Regions from separate parts of the Homo sapiens genome. Here region 2 is linked to region 1. Evidence: fine-mapped expression QTL. Tissue or cell type: transverse colon. Region 1 holds a variant in brackets; the other region holds the start of a gene. All regions are shown on one strand. Distances are from middle to middle.

The links. PIP is the estimated chance that this variant, and not a neighbour inherited with it, causes the effect.
Region 2: CEL starts here. The variant in region 1 is fine-mapped to the expression of CEL in transverse colon (CEDAR, PIP 0.95).

The regions. Positions count from the first base shown.
Region 1 is chr9:133,003,105-133,011,206 of GRCh38, reverse strand. No RefSeq gene overlaps it. Among named protein-coding and RNA genes, the nearest start is that of SNORD141A, 13 kb to the left of the region's middle. RefSeq lists enhancers at 5,362-6,233, 6,711-7,005, 6,880-7,024, 7,108-7,981 and cis regulatory regions at 6,944-6,961, 6,429-7,380. The variant A/C (reference allele first, on the strand shown) is at 3,950.
Region 2 is chr9:133,058,890-133,066,977 of GRCh38, reverse strand. It overlaps CEL (carboxyl ester lipase), which reads right to left and starts at 4,997. Exons shown (of 11, transcript NM_001807.6): 1 at 4,910-4,997; 2 at 2,424-2,574; 3 at 2,216-2,338; 4 at 1,741-1,938; 5 at 318-448; 6 at 33-140. The coding sequence starts at 4,975. It overlaps LOC124902325, which reads left to right and starts at 5,646. Exons shown (of 2, transcript XM_047424377.1): 1 at 5,646-6,229. The coding sequence starts at 5,646. RefSeq lists enhancers at 5,282-6,034, 6,035-6,786.

The sequences.
Region 1 (8,102 bases):
TGTATTTTTAGTAGAGATGAGGTTTCACCATGTTGGCCAGGCTGGTGTCAAACTCCTGACCTCAGGTGATCCACCCTCCTTGGCCTCCCAAAGTGCTGGGATTACAGGTGTGAGCCACCACACCCAGCCACTGTATTCTTATATTTTAAGTCTATCTCTTATAGGCAGCATGTAGTTGTTTCTCTTTTCTAAGATCCTGTGTCTTTTAGCTGGAATATTTAATCTTTTTATATTTAATGTAATACTAATATATTTGTGTTTAAAGCTTTCACATTACTGTTTTCTATTTGTTCTATCTGTTCTATATGGTTTTCCTTCCTTTTCCTTCTTTAATACTAATTATATTTTGTTATTTTATTTTTCCTCTAATAAATAGTTGTATAAACTTTTACTGGTTACCCTGGGGATTACAATATGAATCCTTGATCTGGTAAAGTCAAATACAAATTAGTACTTCTACTACTTCCATAACAATGTAAAGACACATTTGAATGCTTCTTTGCCTCTTGCCTTTTGTTCTGTTGTTATCACGTCATACATGTATGTGTGTATTTATTATTACTTTTTCCTTTCTTTTTTTTTTTTTTTTTGAGACAAGGTCTTGCTCTGTCACCTGGGCTGGAGTGCAGTAGCACTCACTGCAGCCTCGACCTCCTGGTCTCAAGCCTTGAGCCTTCGACCTCCCACCTCAGCTTCCCGAGTAGCTGAGACTACAGGTACGTGTCACCACACTTGGCCATTTTATTTTTTTTTATTTTTTGTAGAGATGGGGTCTCACTATGTTGCCCAGGCTGGTCTTGAACTTCTGGCCTCCAGTGATCCTACAACCTTGGCTTCCCAAAGTGCTGAGATTACAGGTGTGAGCTACCACACCCAGCATGTGTTATACTTTTAAATCAGCTTTATTGAGGTATAATTTATATGCAATAAAATACACCCAGTTTAAGTATATAGTTTGATGACTTTACAACTATATAAATGTAGTCACCATGTCAATCATGACACAGAATATTTCAATCACCCCCAAAGAATTCCCAGGTTCCTTTTTAGTGAGTCACCTCACCAATGGGGCAGACAGGGGACCTGGGGGGCTCTGGAGGGTGAGTGGGTTCTTTGCATCACCTATTGAACATCAAAACTCCTAGAATGGACAAGAATGGGTAGGGCTTAGGTTATGGGACTACCTGCTAGAGGGTGACCAAGGAAGCATCTAAGCCCAGGACTTACTCCAACAGGCAGGGGCCACACAGGGAACTGTCCGTTCTCTAAGACCACACCCACATGGGGAAATTTATTCACAGGGGAGATGGGAGAACCCTGGACAGTCAAAGGGGGAGACAAAAAAAACAAATGATGCTTAAACTGAACTCACCCTGTATCTTCCCAGATCTCTTCCCATGACTCCCTCCTGCAGGATTCTCTTTCTCAGGAATGGCAGCACCGGAAACGTGGGTGTCATCCCGGATTCCCCACTTGCCCCTCATCCATCTGCTGCCACATCAGTCCACTCTATCTCTTAAATTCATCAGAAATCCATCTTCTCCACCCATCCATCCATCACCCTGGTTCAACTCACACCACTGGGAACAGCCTCCACTTCGCCACTGGGAACAGCCTTCTAAGGCATCTCCCACATCCACTTACACTTCTCTATTAAGAGGATGGGTAACTATATGCATGTGTTTCAAAATTCAAAGGACACAAAAAGGCACTCAGTGAAAAGTCTCCCTCCCACTCCTTTCCCCCAGACACTGAGATCACCTTTTCTCTGGAGGTGATCAATGTCAACGGTTTCTTGTTTATCTCTCTGGAGACAATCTACAATGTTATAAACAAAATTATATATATATATATATATTCTCCATCCCCTTTTTAAAAAGCAAACAACTAACTCACAAATGGGTTTTCTTATTCAACTTCCCCTGTAATAAATAGTTGCACATGCTTTTACTGGCTTCCCCAGAGATTATAATATGACTCCTTCATCTATTACAGCCAACTATCAATTCGTTGACCACCAATGGTGCCTTGGTATACATTCCCTTCCTACCTTCCTTTTTTCACTTGGCAATATATCATGGAAATTACTCTCTGTCAATTCAGAAAGTGCTTCCTCATTTCTTTGAACAGATGGACAGTATTCCCCTGTGTGGCTGGACCATGATTTATTTACGCAACCCTCTTTAATGGGTACTTAGGTTGTTTCCAACCTTTCCCAAAAACAAATGCTTGTAGTGAATCACTGTAGTGTGTACACATGGGCTAGGCATCTGTAAGGTATTGTTGGGCCAAAGGGTGTGTGCCTCTGTGATTTAGTTAGACATTACTACATTGTTCCCTATTGGAGCCACAACCATTTCTGTCTCTCCCCCCAGGAGACCTGCCTGTGTTGGGACCACAGGGGCCTCAGAGGACTCAGGCCACCCTCCAGCGGTGGCCCACCTTGGTTCCCTAGACCCGTGAGCGGTTCCATCTTGAGGGGGCTGCCTGGCTGGTCTTTGCAACCCCTGCCCCCTGAGTTGTAGGGCTCCAGTCACCTTGCAGGGCTCCTGACTTCCCTGGCCACCAGGACACCAGGGATGCTTCTCCCCCGAAAATGCAAGTCGATCCCACTGCTCTGGGGCAGAGACCCAAAGCTTTACCAGAGACTGTGGGAGTGGGTCCCGCTGCTCCCACCCCTGTCTTCTCCTAACCACTCCCACTTTGCCCCACCCCCAAATTCCTGGCCCTGCGATGCCAGGGCCTCCCCAGGACCTCCATGCCTTTCCTTCCTGCTCCCCTTTTGGTTCTGGGTGACCTCTGGGAAGGGGTTTCTGCCCCCACTTGAAGAGGCCCCTCCGTGCAGCACACCTACTGCCCCCATCCCTGAGCAGGGTCGGGGGTGTCTCTTTGGACCCCGCTTCCCCAGCGCCTGGCATGAAATCAATGCTGCTGAGTGAGCGAACCCATAAATGGAGGAGAGAACAGAGGACCGAGCCAGGGAGTCCCATGCGTGCCCCGCAGTCCCCTCCCCTGGCCACTGGCAGTGCCCCCCCACCCCTAGGTCCAGGAAGAACTCAAGATGCTGGAAGGAAAGAATCACTAAGTCATTCAAGAGTTTCAGCCAGGGCCACAACCCCACCTGTGGCTAGGAAGAGTGGGGAAAGGGGAGAGGGAGGAGGAGAAGGAAAGGGAGATAGGGAGGAGGAGAAGGAAAGGGAGATGGGGAGAAGAGGAGGGAGAGAGAGGAGGGGAGGGAAGAGGTGGGGAGGAAGAGTGAGGGAAGAGGAGGAAAGGAACAGGAGGAGGGAGGTGGAGAGGGAGGGAAGGGCCCCGGGTCTGGCATTCTCCAAAGTGCTTCCCTACTCCAGGCTCATCCCTTCCTGACCCCTCCACGCCGGCCCAGAGCACCACACTGGGAACTTGCTGTCTGTTTTAGGGGATCTGTAGAGGAGAGTGGGCCACAGGTCCATCCCTGACCCCTTGATTCCTTGGGAAGGGTTTACCTTGGGATTAAAAAGCCTTGGGGAAGAGGTCCTTTAAAGTTCAGTCAAACCTTGGGCAAATGCGTGCCTCAGTTTCCATGTCTGTAAAACAGGGAAAAGTAGCTCCTGCTATTCTATGGGAAGTGCTCAGCTAGTGCCAGCCCAGGTCACAGCAAGTGCTAGGTACAGTTGGATGGTGCCATCTGGGATGGGTCCTCCAAGCCAATCAGATCAGATCAGATTGAGAGCTCATCCTCCCAGGAGATGGTGAGTGCTGTCCTTCAGCCAAACCTCTAGATCCAGGAAGCCGTTCTCAGACAGGTCCACAGTCCACACAGTGTCAGGTAGGACTGACAGTGGGCCTGAACTGTAATTCATGGTTCTAGGCAAAAGACTCGAAAGCACCCATTCACACGTATACTTGCACCCTGTTATCCAGGCCTAGGCACTCCATGCATTGGCCCCTTTGGGTGGGTAGACCCTTC[A/C]GTTTGCTTGCCTATCCATCCACCCATTGTCCATCCATCCACCCATCCACCATCCATCCACCCAACCACCATCCATCCATCCATCCATCCATCCACCTATCATCCATCCACCCACCCATCCATCCATCCATCCATCTGTCCATCCATCCGTCCATCCGTCCATCCATCCATCCATCCATCCATGCATCCATCCATCCATCCATCCACCCATCTGTTCATCCATTCATCCATCCACACATCCACCATCCATCCATCCATCCATCCAACCATCCATCCATCCATCCATCCATCCATCCACCCATCTGTTCATCCATCCATCCATCCACACATCCACCATCCATCCATCCACCCATCCATCCATCTATCCATGCTTCCATCCATCCATCCAACCATCCATCCATCCATCATTCATCCATCCATCCACTCACCCAACCATCCATCTGTCCATCTGACAAAAAGCATTTCCTTAATGAGTACTGGGGAAGCAATGGAGAATTTCATAGAACGTGTCACACAATGACACAAATAGCTATTTCATGACAATTATGATCAACATCAGAGGGCAGAATTTCTGGGGGATTTGAGAGTCTATAACTGGCAAGGGGAGGTTTTCTTGTGGGGTGCATGTGGGTTGGGTTTGGGATGACGAAGATAAAGAATTGGTGAAGTGAGGAAACTGCCTTCCAAGTGGAGGGAACAGCATTCCCAGAGCCTCAGAGGCAGGCAAAGCCAGTCTGGAAGGAGGAAGGAGAGAATGTCGCTGGGATTCTGGTGCTGTTGCTCAGACACCCACCCCTAGGGAGAAGTGGCTCTCCCTGCAGATCTCCCACAACCCTGAAGGTGCCTCCCTGCTCCAGCCCAGAGCAGGGCTCCCTGGCCCGTCTGCCATCAGTTGAGGGGGCATTACCTGCTCTGTTTCTCTGCCTGGACTATGCATGAGCTGTTTAGGGCTGGGCTCTGGTTTTCAAGTCTTCATTCAGCAGAGACCACTGTGCACATGGGCTTTTTTTTTTTGGCGGGGGCGGGGGGAGGGGTTACTAAAATATACTTAATAAATTTTACCTTCTTAACTATTTCTAAGTGTACAGTTCAGTGGCATTGGGTACATTCACATTGTTGTGCAATCATCACCACCAGCCAACACCAGAACTTTTCCCAAACTGAAGCTCTGTACCCATTAGACACTAACTCCCCACTCCCCTCCCCCAGATCCTGCCAGCCACCATTCTACTTTCGATGAATTTGACTACTCTAGGGACCTCATATAAGTGGAATCATCCTGTGCTTGTGCTTTTGTGACTGGCCTGTTTCACTCAGCATGATGTCCTCAAGGTCCACGTGTGGCATGTGTCAGAGCTCCATTCCCTTTGATGGCCAAGTCATATTTCCTAGCATGGACAGGCCCCGTTTTGTTTACCCATCATCTGTGGATGGACACTTGGGGTGCCCACTTTTTGGCTGCTGGGGACGATGCTGCTTTGAAGCCCACCAGCTTTTGGTACCTCTTTGGTGGAGTACCTTCGGCCAACTACACACCCACTGAGCAGTTTGTATTTTGCAAAATTTTATAGTGAAGGGACTGCAGACGTCGTCTTGACCAACTCTCTTCCTTTTGCAGCTGAGTGGAACCAAGTCCACTGGCTGCGGCGCTTCCTCTTCGCCCAGCTCTCTGCACGGTGGCCAAGCTCTGGGCCCTTAGCTCCTGGCAGGACCATATGTCCCCTGATCGGACTTTTGTGACACCGGGGCGCCCCACCTCATGCCTGCAGTGGTGCAACCCACACTACTCTAGAAAGTTTATGTGCCTGCTGCACACCCTCCTTTCCCTAGCCCACCGCAGCCATCCCATGGTGTTGTGGGAAATGACCTCAGAGAGCTTCCCCAGACAATGGAGAGTCTTTAGAATGCTGGGCAGCTGGACCCTTGGCCCTGGATACCAAGAGCTATGCAGGCACTTATCCCAAAGCCACCCCCATTCCAGCCAGATGCTGGTCCCCAACCCTGGGAAACAGAGACCAGGACCTGTGCCACTCCTGCTTGGCATGCACCTGGACTCCCCAGGACAGCCCTGCGGGTGGGTTTTCTTATCTCACTTTACAGACAGCATACGGGGCTAAAAAGTAGAGAAATGACTTGCTTAGAGCACCAGGGCCCAGCACAGAGTTCAGCTTCAAAGCCATCATTTCATTGTCCTCCACCAGCAGAGGAAGCCTAGTGACCGCCCCTTCCTACCCCCAGCCTCATCCCCACAATCACAGGGTCCCCTGCTGACAAGTGGCTCCCAGGGCAGGTCTCCCAGCCTAGCAGATCTCCTGGCTTGGAGACCCAGGATTTCTCCTGGCAAGGTCTCTAGGGCAGATGAGGCTGAGCTGCCTTCAAGTCCACCCAGGCCTCCCCAGAGGAGGCCCCCCTCCCAGGAATGGCATCCCAGCTCCTCCCTCCTCTGGGCTGGCTTCATGGGGGCAGACACCTTTACTTCTGCAACACAGCTGGGCTGCAGTCGTACAAGGGATCATGGTTTGCAGGCTGAGCTGGCAGAGGGACACCCCAGGGTGAAGGGCATTTGTGGGGCATCCTGTCATTGAACTTTCTCAGAAGGCCCTGCCCTTCTCTTTTTCCCTCCAAGGCAGTTGTTGGGATGGCAACATCAATGCTGGCCGTGGCACTTCCTCTTTGGCCAGCTCTGCACAGTGGCCGAGCTGTGGGCCCTCAGCTCCTGGCAGGGCCCTGTGTCCCCTGACCAGACTTCCGTGAGGCCAGGCCTCCCCACCCCACACCTGCAGCAGTGCAGCCCATGCTGCTCTAGGAGGTTTATCTGCCAGAGAGGCTTTGAGGGTGGGGAATGAGACCCTTATCTCCCTGCCAGGGGCCTGCCCTACAGTTAGGGCTTTGTAATCTGACATTGTGATTTTTCACTCTTGTTTTTCCCCTCATGGAGGGAAGATTTGCTGAATCACCCAGGGTGAGGTGGTTGGAGGAGGAGGGGGGCACCAGCTGGGGGGCAGTGATAAGTCTCAGGCCGGGCTGAGGGGCGCTGGGGAGCCACCGGGAGGAAACCCTTAACCGTGACGGTTTCCAGCTAAGATTGTAGGCTTCTAAAGAGCTGCCTTGGGGAGGCTGAGCTCAGGGATCCTGAACCTTCCTTCCTGAGGAGTGCAGAGGAGGGCCGGGGGTGCCAGGCAAGCCCCGTAGACATCCCACGAGCCAGCAGGGATGGGAAGGCAGGGACCGTGACCGTGGCAATGACCAAAGATGCATGTGGCTGGCTGCCAAGCCCCAACAGGATAGCCCCCAGGACCCCACTAGGTCACCCTTGCTTTGCACACTGGCCTCCTGAAGCCCTGAGAAGGCGCTGGCTAGAGCACTGCTCCCTAACAGGTTGGGCAAGAGCTGGGGGCAGGGGAGGCCTCTTGTCTCCCCCAGGGCTTTGTGCCCCGCTGTTTTCTTGGCTTGGGGCAGCCCTCTGCACTTCCAACAGATCAAATTCTTTTTGTCTTGCAAATGTCGACTTCCCTCATTAGACTTCCCTTAACCCCAGGGCTGGGCTTAGTAACCCCCTTGGGCCTCCAGACCCCCCACAGCGTCTCCTCTCCTGGGTCTTGCCAAGGCCCTGCCCAGAGTGGACGCCCAGCAAATACTTGTTGAACAGACTTTGTACCCTGCGAGAAGTGGTCTTCTATTGGCACTAAGTCTGGGGTCTACAAAGTGGGAAGAAATCCCCAGAGGAGCTGGGCTGGCCCCCAGGAATGCCCTCTGTTGCAGAGAGGACCCAGCTGCTGGGAGTGGTAGACCCCAGCCTGACCTCCAGGTGCCCGACCCTCAGCCTCTGCTGGGGCTGGCCACACAGTAGAGACAGCTGTCCACCAGTGATCTCATGGTAGTGTACAGAGATGGGGTCGTGCTGGGCGCAGGGGGAGGGCTTGGAGCAGAAAGGCCAGGCCGGACGGTGCCTGAGGCTTCCCCAGGATGCTCTCTACGCGACTGACTTCTGATTCCCCTCAGAGTCCGGTGGGCAACCGCAGCTCCGGGGAAGATGGGTGATTGACACCCCTGAGTCAGTGGCCACATCCCTTGCTGCTCCCAAAAGGGGCTCCTGGGGCAGGAAGAGCTGCCCACGGTGGTCGCTTCGCTCCCTTCCTGCTGCCCAGCTGAG
Region 2 (8,088 bases), 56 kb before region 1:
CACCCCGCCCAGCCCTGCCCTCCTCCGTTTACCTTTTTGGCCCAGAAGAGTGGGTTTTTCTGGATGACCCAGGGACTCAGGGCCACGCCGCTCTGGCTGATGGCTCGCCGGATGAGGCCCTTGTTGTAGGGGGAGAGGGTCTACGGGACCCAGAAATCCCGTCACCAAGGCCGCTCCCCACTCTGCCCACCCCACGCTGGGACAAGGACACCCCAGCACCACAGCCCCAGCTCCACGCTCCTCCTCCCACCCTCCCCTTCCCGTTTGAGCTTCCTCTCAACCTGTGGGGCAGGCCCTCCCCACAGGGATCCCGAGACCTGCAGAGAGACGCTGGCACCTCCAGCAGACTCCCCGAAGAGCGTGATGTTGTTGGGGTCCCCCCCGAAGGCCGCGATATTCCTCTTCACCCAAGCAATGGCCATGTGCTGATCCCGAAGGCCATAGTTACCTGGGGGCAGGGCAGGGGAGGGGGTGCTAGAGACCAGTGGCCCAGGCCTGGCCTCCAGGAGGGGAGATCAGCATAGGTGGGGTGGAAATGCCCTCAACAGAGTTGGGGCCATGGCAGAGCCCCAGTTGGCAAATGGTGGGTCCCTAAGAAGCTGGGTCGGGTAGGGTGCTGGAGGGGGTGGGTCCCCAGGAGACTAGGTCACGTTGGTTGCTGGAGTGGGTGGGTCCCCAGGAGGCTGAGTCGGGTGCGGTGCTGTATGGGGTGGGTCCCCAGGAGGTTGGGTTGGTGTGGTGCTGGAGGGGGTGGTGTTTGTCGGGGGCAGGATGGTCAGGCCCATGCACCTCTCCTGCCCCTGCCCCAGTCCCTCCTGTCTGTGTCCTGCCACTTCTGTGTCCACAGCTGTCTCTGCCTCAAGGTATTGTTCTCTGTCTCTCACTCAGCTCTGCTCTCCTGGTTTCTCTCTGAGCCTCAGCCTGTCTGCCTGTCTGTCTGTCCCACAGCCTCTTATTTTTGAGATGGGGCCTCACTCTGTCGCCCAGGCTGGAGTGCAGTGGCACGACCACGGCTCACTGCAGCTTTGAACCCCTGGGCTCAAGCGATCCTTCCACCTCTGCCTCCCAGGTAGCTGAGGACAGAGGCATGAGATACCACGCCTGGCTATTTTTTTTTTTTTTTTTTTTTTTGAGACAGAGTTTTACTCTTGTTCTCCAGGCTGGAGTGCAGTGGCATGATCTCGGCTCACCGCAACCTCCGCCTCCTGAGTTCAAGCGATTCTCCTGCCTCAGCCTCCCGAGTAGCTGGGATTACAGGCAAGCGCCACCACGCCTGGCTAATTTTGTATTTTTAGTAGAGAAGAGGTTTCTCCATTTTAGTCAGGCTGGTCTCAAACTCCTGACCTCAGGTGATCTACCCACCTTGGGCTCCCAACGTGCTGGGATTACAGGGGTGAGCCGCCGCGCCCAGTCCCCAGCTAATTTTTAATTTTTGTGTAGAGATGGGGGTCTCCCAGTGATTTTCAGGCTGGTCTTGAACTTCTGCGCTCAAGTGACCCACCTGTGTGGGCCTCCTAAAGTGCTGGGATTACAGGCGTGAGCCATCTCTCCCGGCCTCTGCAGCATCTTTTATTTTACTACAGCTACCAAGGGCCTCCTGCATCTCATGATTCTACTCCAGCTTCCGGGTCTTTCTGTGAACCGCCACTGGTTGTTTGGGGTGAGGGGTGCTGAGGAAAATCTCCCTGCTGGGCTCAGCATGCTGGTCGCCCCACCTCAGGGCCGAAGGCACCCACGCACCTGGCAGATTGGCGTCCCCAGTGCTGAGGAACCCAAGGGGGCCGACACGGTAGTTGAAGGTGACCACGATGACGTTTCCGCGTGTGGCGATCTCCTCGCCGTCATACAGGTAGTTGTTGAGGAAGTTGGCCCCATGGCCGGACCCCATGAGGAAGGCGCCTCCATAGATCCAGATCATAACGGGCAGGTCCCGGGAGACTGAGATGGGGGAGCGGCTGGTGACCCCAGACGCCCCGCCTGGCCCTGTCTCCAGCCGGTCCCCTGTCCCTGTGCAGCAGGTGCCTGGGGCCAAGACAGGGAGGTGCTCCAAGGCGCTGCCCTGCCCCAGGCTGGGCAACGGCAGTGGGCGCTCCCCTCCCCGCCTCTGTGGGATTTCATGGAAGTTCAGCTTTGCAGCCCCCAGACTCAAGCCAGGAGTAGACCCGGGGCAGTGGCTGCATGGGAGGGTCCCTTGGGGAGTAGAGGGGAGGCAGACCTTGCTTCCTGCCCTGGGGCACCCAAATGTTGAGGTACAGGCAGTCTTCATCCCCGTAGGTGCTGTCCTGGGTGATGGTGGCCTGCAGGCATCTCTTCTTGAAGTTCTTGGCCTTCAGGGTCCCTGCAGGTGGCAGGAGTTGGCATGAGGAAGGCAGCCGCCCTCACCCGCCCCGCCGCAGGGCCAGTCCGGCACCACCCACTCCCACCTTGCCAGCCAGGATGTGGCTGAGGATTTTCCAGGGCCTTGGTGGGAGCTGCGAAGGGGATGCCCTTGAAGATGTCCACAGAGTCACCCAGGAGGCCGAGCTTCTTATTGACGCCTTCCACGAACCCACCTTCTGTGTACACGGCGCCCAGCTGCGAGGGAGACACGGGCAGGGTCAGGGGGGCTCAAGCCCCATCGGCCTGAATCCGGAGGGGGCAAGGCAAGCCGACTCCGCGTGCCCAGAGGCAAAGACAGCTTCAAAGCAGGACAGCTCTGCACAGGAGACCCAGGCAGCACCCCCTGCCCTGCAATGCTCAGGGCTTTAGGATTCCTGTTCCTCTCCTTATCCCTGGGGGTGTCCTGCTCCCAGAATCTTAGAGGAAACTGGTTCAACCAGTGTTCCCACTAGGGAAGCCGGCCAAGAGGTGGGATGGAGGTTTGGGTTCTGGCTATGGCCGCCCAGCTTTGACTCCGATCCTCAGTTTCCCCATGTGGAAGACGAGCAACAGCCGTGTCTCCTGTCGGCCTGTTTGCCATCACATGGGAGGCCTGTCCAGCTCCCGGGAGGAGTGTACCCAATGCTCAGTGTACCCGGGATGTTTCACACCAACCTTCCTCCTTTCTGAGGGGTGGGGCCTGCTTTTCCCTCCTCCCATCTCCCTGCACAGGGCCTAGCTGGCTGGGCACAAAGTCGATGGCCCCATGCCCAAGTCCCCACAGTTCCTGAGCCCCCTGCTGGTAAAGAACCCCCTAGGGACCACACCTCCCACCCCCGCCACGCTTCCCTGTGCCATGAAAATGGCCTCTGTGCACCAAGCTGTCCACCCCCACGAGGGGCCTGGAGGTTGGTGCTCATCCACCCTCTGTCCCTGACGGAACTGAGGCTGGGCAGCTTTTGGGCTTGAAGTCACCCTGTTGAGAAGCAGCTGTCTGCCCCAGTGCCACCTCCTGTCCATCTTGGGCAGCAGCTCCCTCTTCCCGTGGTGCATGGTGGGACCAGGTCATTGCTTGCTGGCTGTCACCTGTGCCAGGTTCCAGGTGGGGAAGGGCAGGGTGGCCCTACACCCCCAGGCCCAGCCAGGGTCCCAGCAGCCCTCTGAAGTCTAGGGTGATGGGCCCCCTGTCACACTGGTGTGGGAGAGTGCGGCGGTTGGAACTGGAGGAAAGGAACCAGAAGCAACACATGCAGGCATCGTGGGCATCCCCTGCGAGGCATCTGTGTCTCCTTGTGCCAGTGGCGTGATCCCTGTGCAATTGAGACTGGCCAGAGGGCCTCAGGGTGGGGAAATGGGGAGGGGTCGTGATGACCTGCCGAAGGCCTCTCAGCACCCCAAGAAGAGCTCGCCCAAGAAGAAGGTGACCTCTCCTTTGAGTCAGGAGCCCAGGACCACTGCCCAAACCTCCCGGTCCCAGGGCCAGGGAGTGTGGAGAGCAGGCAGCAGAGGTGGAGACAGGAGTCCCCAGGGCCTGAGACACCGCAGGCGGCAGAACAGCGTGGTTGGGATCTGGGGTCCCCTGTGTGACTCCTGCTGGGGGCAGGGACTGGGCCGGGCACCGACACCGGCTTCCTGTGGGGCTTGGGGTTTCTGTGGCTTCTCCTTCACAGGCAGAGAGGGTAGAATTTATGGATGCCTCGAGAGAGCTCCTGCCTGCCGGCTCTCTTTCTGGAGGGACCCGGACCCGGGTGTGGAGTAGCTCGGCTTTCAGCTTCCTGCACAGGAATAGGAGGCAGCAGCTGTGCCATGCTGGGCAAACTGCCTGCCTGCTTCTCTCCACCCGTCTGCCTGCTCTCCACACTCCCTGCCCCTGGGCCCGTTTCCCCTTCTGTAAAATGGGAACAACAGAGAGGTGGAATCACCAGGATTAGCAAATGTAAATTCAAGAGGCCCAGTTACATTTGAATTTCAGGTAAACAGTGAATTGTTTTTTAGTATGTTTCATTTTTTTCTTTTTCTATTTTTTGAGACAGAGTCTCGCCCTGTCACCCAGGCTGGAGTGCAGTAGCGTGATCTCAGCTCACCGCAATCTCCACCTCCCAGCTTCAAGCGGTTCTCCTGCCTCAGCCTCCCGAGTAGCTGGGATTACAGGCACCCACCACCACGCCCGATTAATATTTGTATTTTTAGTAGAGACGGGGTTTCACCATGTTGGCCAGGCTGGTCTCCAACTCCTGACCTCAAGTGATCCACCCACCTCGGCCTCCCAAACTGGTGGGATTGCAGGTGTGAGCCACTGCGCCCGGCCCATAGAAATTTGTTTCAAATATTGCATGGGACATACTTACACAGCAGTTCTTGGCAGTTTATCTGAAATTCAAATGGAATTGGGCATCCTGTGTTCTACCTGGCACCTGTCCCCATAGAAATGAGCGTGAGTGCCCGGGATCTGCTGCGGGGCTGTGCTGGGCTCTTTCTCAGCCTGGCCCGAAGTTTCCAGATCTGATTGAGCGAGAGAGCAGCAGGACCTGCCCCTCTGCTGGGCTCTTACCTTCGCGGCACTCGCCACTGCCCAGCAGCAGGTGAGGCCCAACACAACCAGTTGCAGGCGCCCCATGGTGAGCATCAGCCTCTGGGTGGCCCTCCCCCTGGGCCTCGGGTATTTATGGAGCTGGATCCAAGGTCACATGCTTGTTCATGAGCTCTCAGGCACTCCCTCCCCTCTACCCCCTCAGGTGCAGGGAGATCCAGTTTTCCCCAAACCCACAGTGCACCTGTGCAGGTTACCACTTACCTGGGAGCAGAGGCAGGTGGCAAGGTGGCGGGTGGTAAGGGGGATGGTGGGGCCGGGCAGGGTGCACAGTGCCCTGCCTTCTGGTTTGTTCACAGGGCTTGGTGTCACTGTCAGAGAAAAGGGCATACTTTGTCTCCATGTCTCCATGCCCTGCTTGTCCCCTAGGTCCCCAAAGGGGCTTCAGAGGGGACCGAGCACGTGACTTCTGGGACAGAAAGGGCAGCATGCTGCAGGCCCTCCACTCATGTGGCTGACCTTATCTGTACGAGCTTTTCCTGGGGCCCGTGGAGCGGGTAGTCCAAGCTGGGTGCGAATCCCAGAGCAGCACAAGGCAGTCCCACTCAAGGGTGTGGAAGTGTCACCATCCAGCCTGATGTGTCCTGGGAGGGAGGACTAGAGGCTCAGGGGGTGTGGGTGGGGGGGTGCGGAGGCATCTAGCCCAACCATGTAGGTTTCCCTGTGGAAACAAAGGGCCCAGCCGAGGCCCTGGGGCATGCCCAGGCAGAGTGACAGAAGGGGAGGGAAAGAGGCCAGTGGGAGGGAAGGGAGAAGGTCGTGTGAGGTTGTGGAGGAGGAGGCGACTCGTATTTTCTGTGAACAGGTATTAATCCTGGAGCCAGGAAAGGCTCTGAGAAGTGAAAGAACACCACGAACAAAGTCTTCAGATGGGGCCTTTAAGCTCAGCCAGTGTGAGGTCACCCTCACCGAGACACTCAGTGGCAGCTCCAGCCACCGCACAGCCCTCTGCAGTGATGGGAACAGGGTGAGGGCAGCCAGAGCCTTCCCACCCAACAGTCCCCCAGGAGACACTGGGGCCTGTGCTTCCCACACCAACCACACTCCCGTTCTGCCACCCCTGCGGCCGGTGCCAGGGACCGAGTGGACCTGCAGAGCCACGTCTGTCCCTCTGTCTGTCGACCACAGCCGGTGCCAGCAATTCAGGAGGCCTAGTGGGCGAGGGAGGCTGGGGAAAGGACTGGAGGGTGGGAGGAGGAGCTCGGCCACAGGAAATAAGGGGCCTGCAGGTGGCTGGGGCGCCCCAGGGCAAAGGCATTTGCCTCAGACCTTTGCTGCAGTGTCATTTACAGTGGCTAAGGAGGAAAGGGGAGGGCAGAGGGGAGGCAGCAGGGAGAGGAAGGAGGTGGGGGAGGGCTGGGGCAGGGCAGAGGGAAAGGAAGGCCCCAGTTTATATCTATGTACATTTTTAGAGCAGCTTTAGGTTCACAGCAAAATTAGAGGAAGATTACAGAGATTTCCCGTATGTCCTCGCCCCACTCCAGTCTCCCCCGTTATCAACATCCCCCACCAGGGGGTACAGCTGTTAACACCTGATGAATCCACATTGACATGTCATTATCACCCGGAGTCCACAGAGGTTTTTTGTTTGTTTGTTTTTTTGAGACAGGGTCTCTGTCACCCAGGCTAGAGTGCAGTGGCACAATCATAGCTCACTGCAGTCTTGAACTCCTGGGTTCGAGGGATCCTCCTGCTTTAGCCTCTGAAGTAGCTGGGATTACAGGCGTGCGCCATCACACCCAGCCGATTTTTGTATTTTTAGTAGAGACTGGGTTTCACCATGTTGGCCAGGCTGGTCTCAAACTCCTGAGCTCAAGTGATCTGCCCGCCTCAGCCTCCCAAAGTGCTGGGATTACAGGCATGAGCCACCGTGCCCAGCCTCATACTTTATTTTTTTAAAATTGGCAAAAAAAAAAAAAAAAAACTTATTTCCTGGCTCTGTCTCTTCCAAAGCCCTAGCAGTAACGAAATCCCAGGAGCAAGCCCCACCCCTGGTGACCAGACTGGGGTCTCTAAACACCATATTCACACCGACTGAGTGCACCCTGGGGAGATGGTTGGGCCGGGTCCGCAACAGGAAATGCCAGGGAGGGGCTGGAGCCTGCAGCATCGTGGTAGCTGTAAGTAAGGAAGGTGCCCAAGACCCAAGGCTTGTGTCAAAGGACTACAGAGGTCAACCTGAGGCCGCCTCTGGGCAAAGATAGACAAGTTGGGCATGAAAAAGCAAGCCTGCAATTGACAGACGTGAGAGTTCACCAGGCAGCCCAGGAAACACGCTCTCCACCCCCTCCTGCCCTGTCACTGGCCCTTGCCAGGGCACTAACTCATTGTTCTGAAAACTGTTAGAGGTGATAACAGGCATTTTCCCTTCTTTTCTGTGAAAATAGTATTTCAGGGTAATCAAACAGACGATGAGGAAGATTCCTTTATAGGATTCCAGCTACTAAATGCAGAGGGAACGATATAATTCAAAAAAATCACCATTTTGCACCCTTAAGGAAGTAGTAGGTCCAGGCAATTATCAACGGCTATTCAAAAGCCATTAAATAGGCTGGACGCAGTGGCTCACACCTGTAATCCCAGTACTTTGGAAGGCTGAGGCGGGAGGATCCCTTGAGCCCAGCCTGGACAACATTAGTGAGACCTCATCTCTACAAAAATTCAAAAATTATCTGGGCATGGCGGTACACAACCTGTAGTTCCAGCTACTCAGGAGGCTGAGGTGGAAGGATCACCCGAGCCCAGGAGGTTGAGGCTGCAGTGAGCCCTGATTGCATCACTGCACTCCAACCTGGGTGACAAAGCAAGACCATCTCAAAAAAAAAAAAAAGACCCACAAATGAAACAAAAAACCACAGAAACCCAAAAACCGTTAGATAAAAGACCAACACATCAGGCTGACAACACCTAAACCTGCTGGTCAATCCTAGTAAGCAGACCTCCCGTGCATGCAGACTGACGCAGCCTAGGAAGAGACCTTGAACCCGAATCTGGCTGAGCCTCCACCTGTCCCCAGGAAATACAGGGGAGAGAGGAGCAGGTTCAGCACCACACAGAAGCAACCAGCCAATCCAGAACAGGGCCATTCTCTGACAACTGACTGTTTCTTCAACAAATACTCGGCACGCACACAGGTTGGG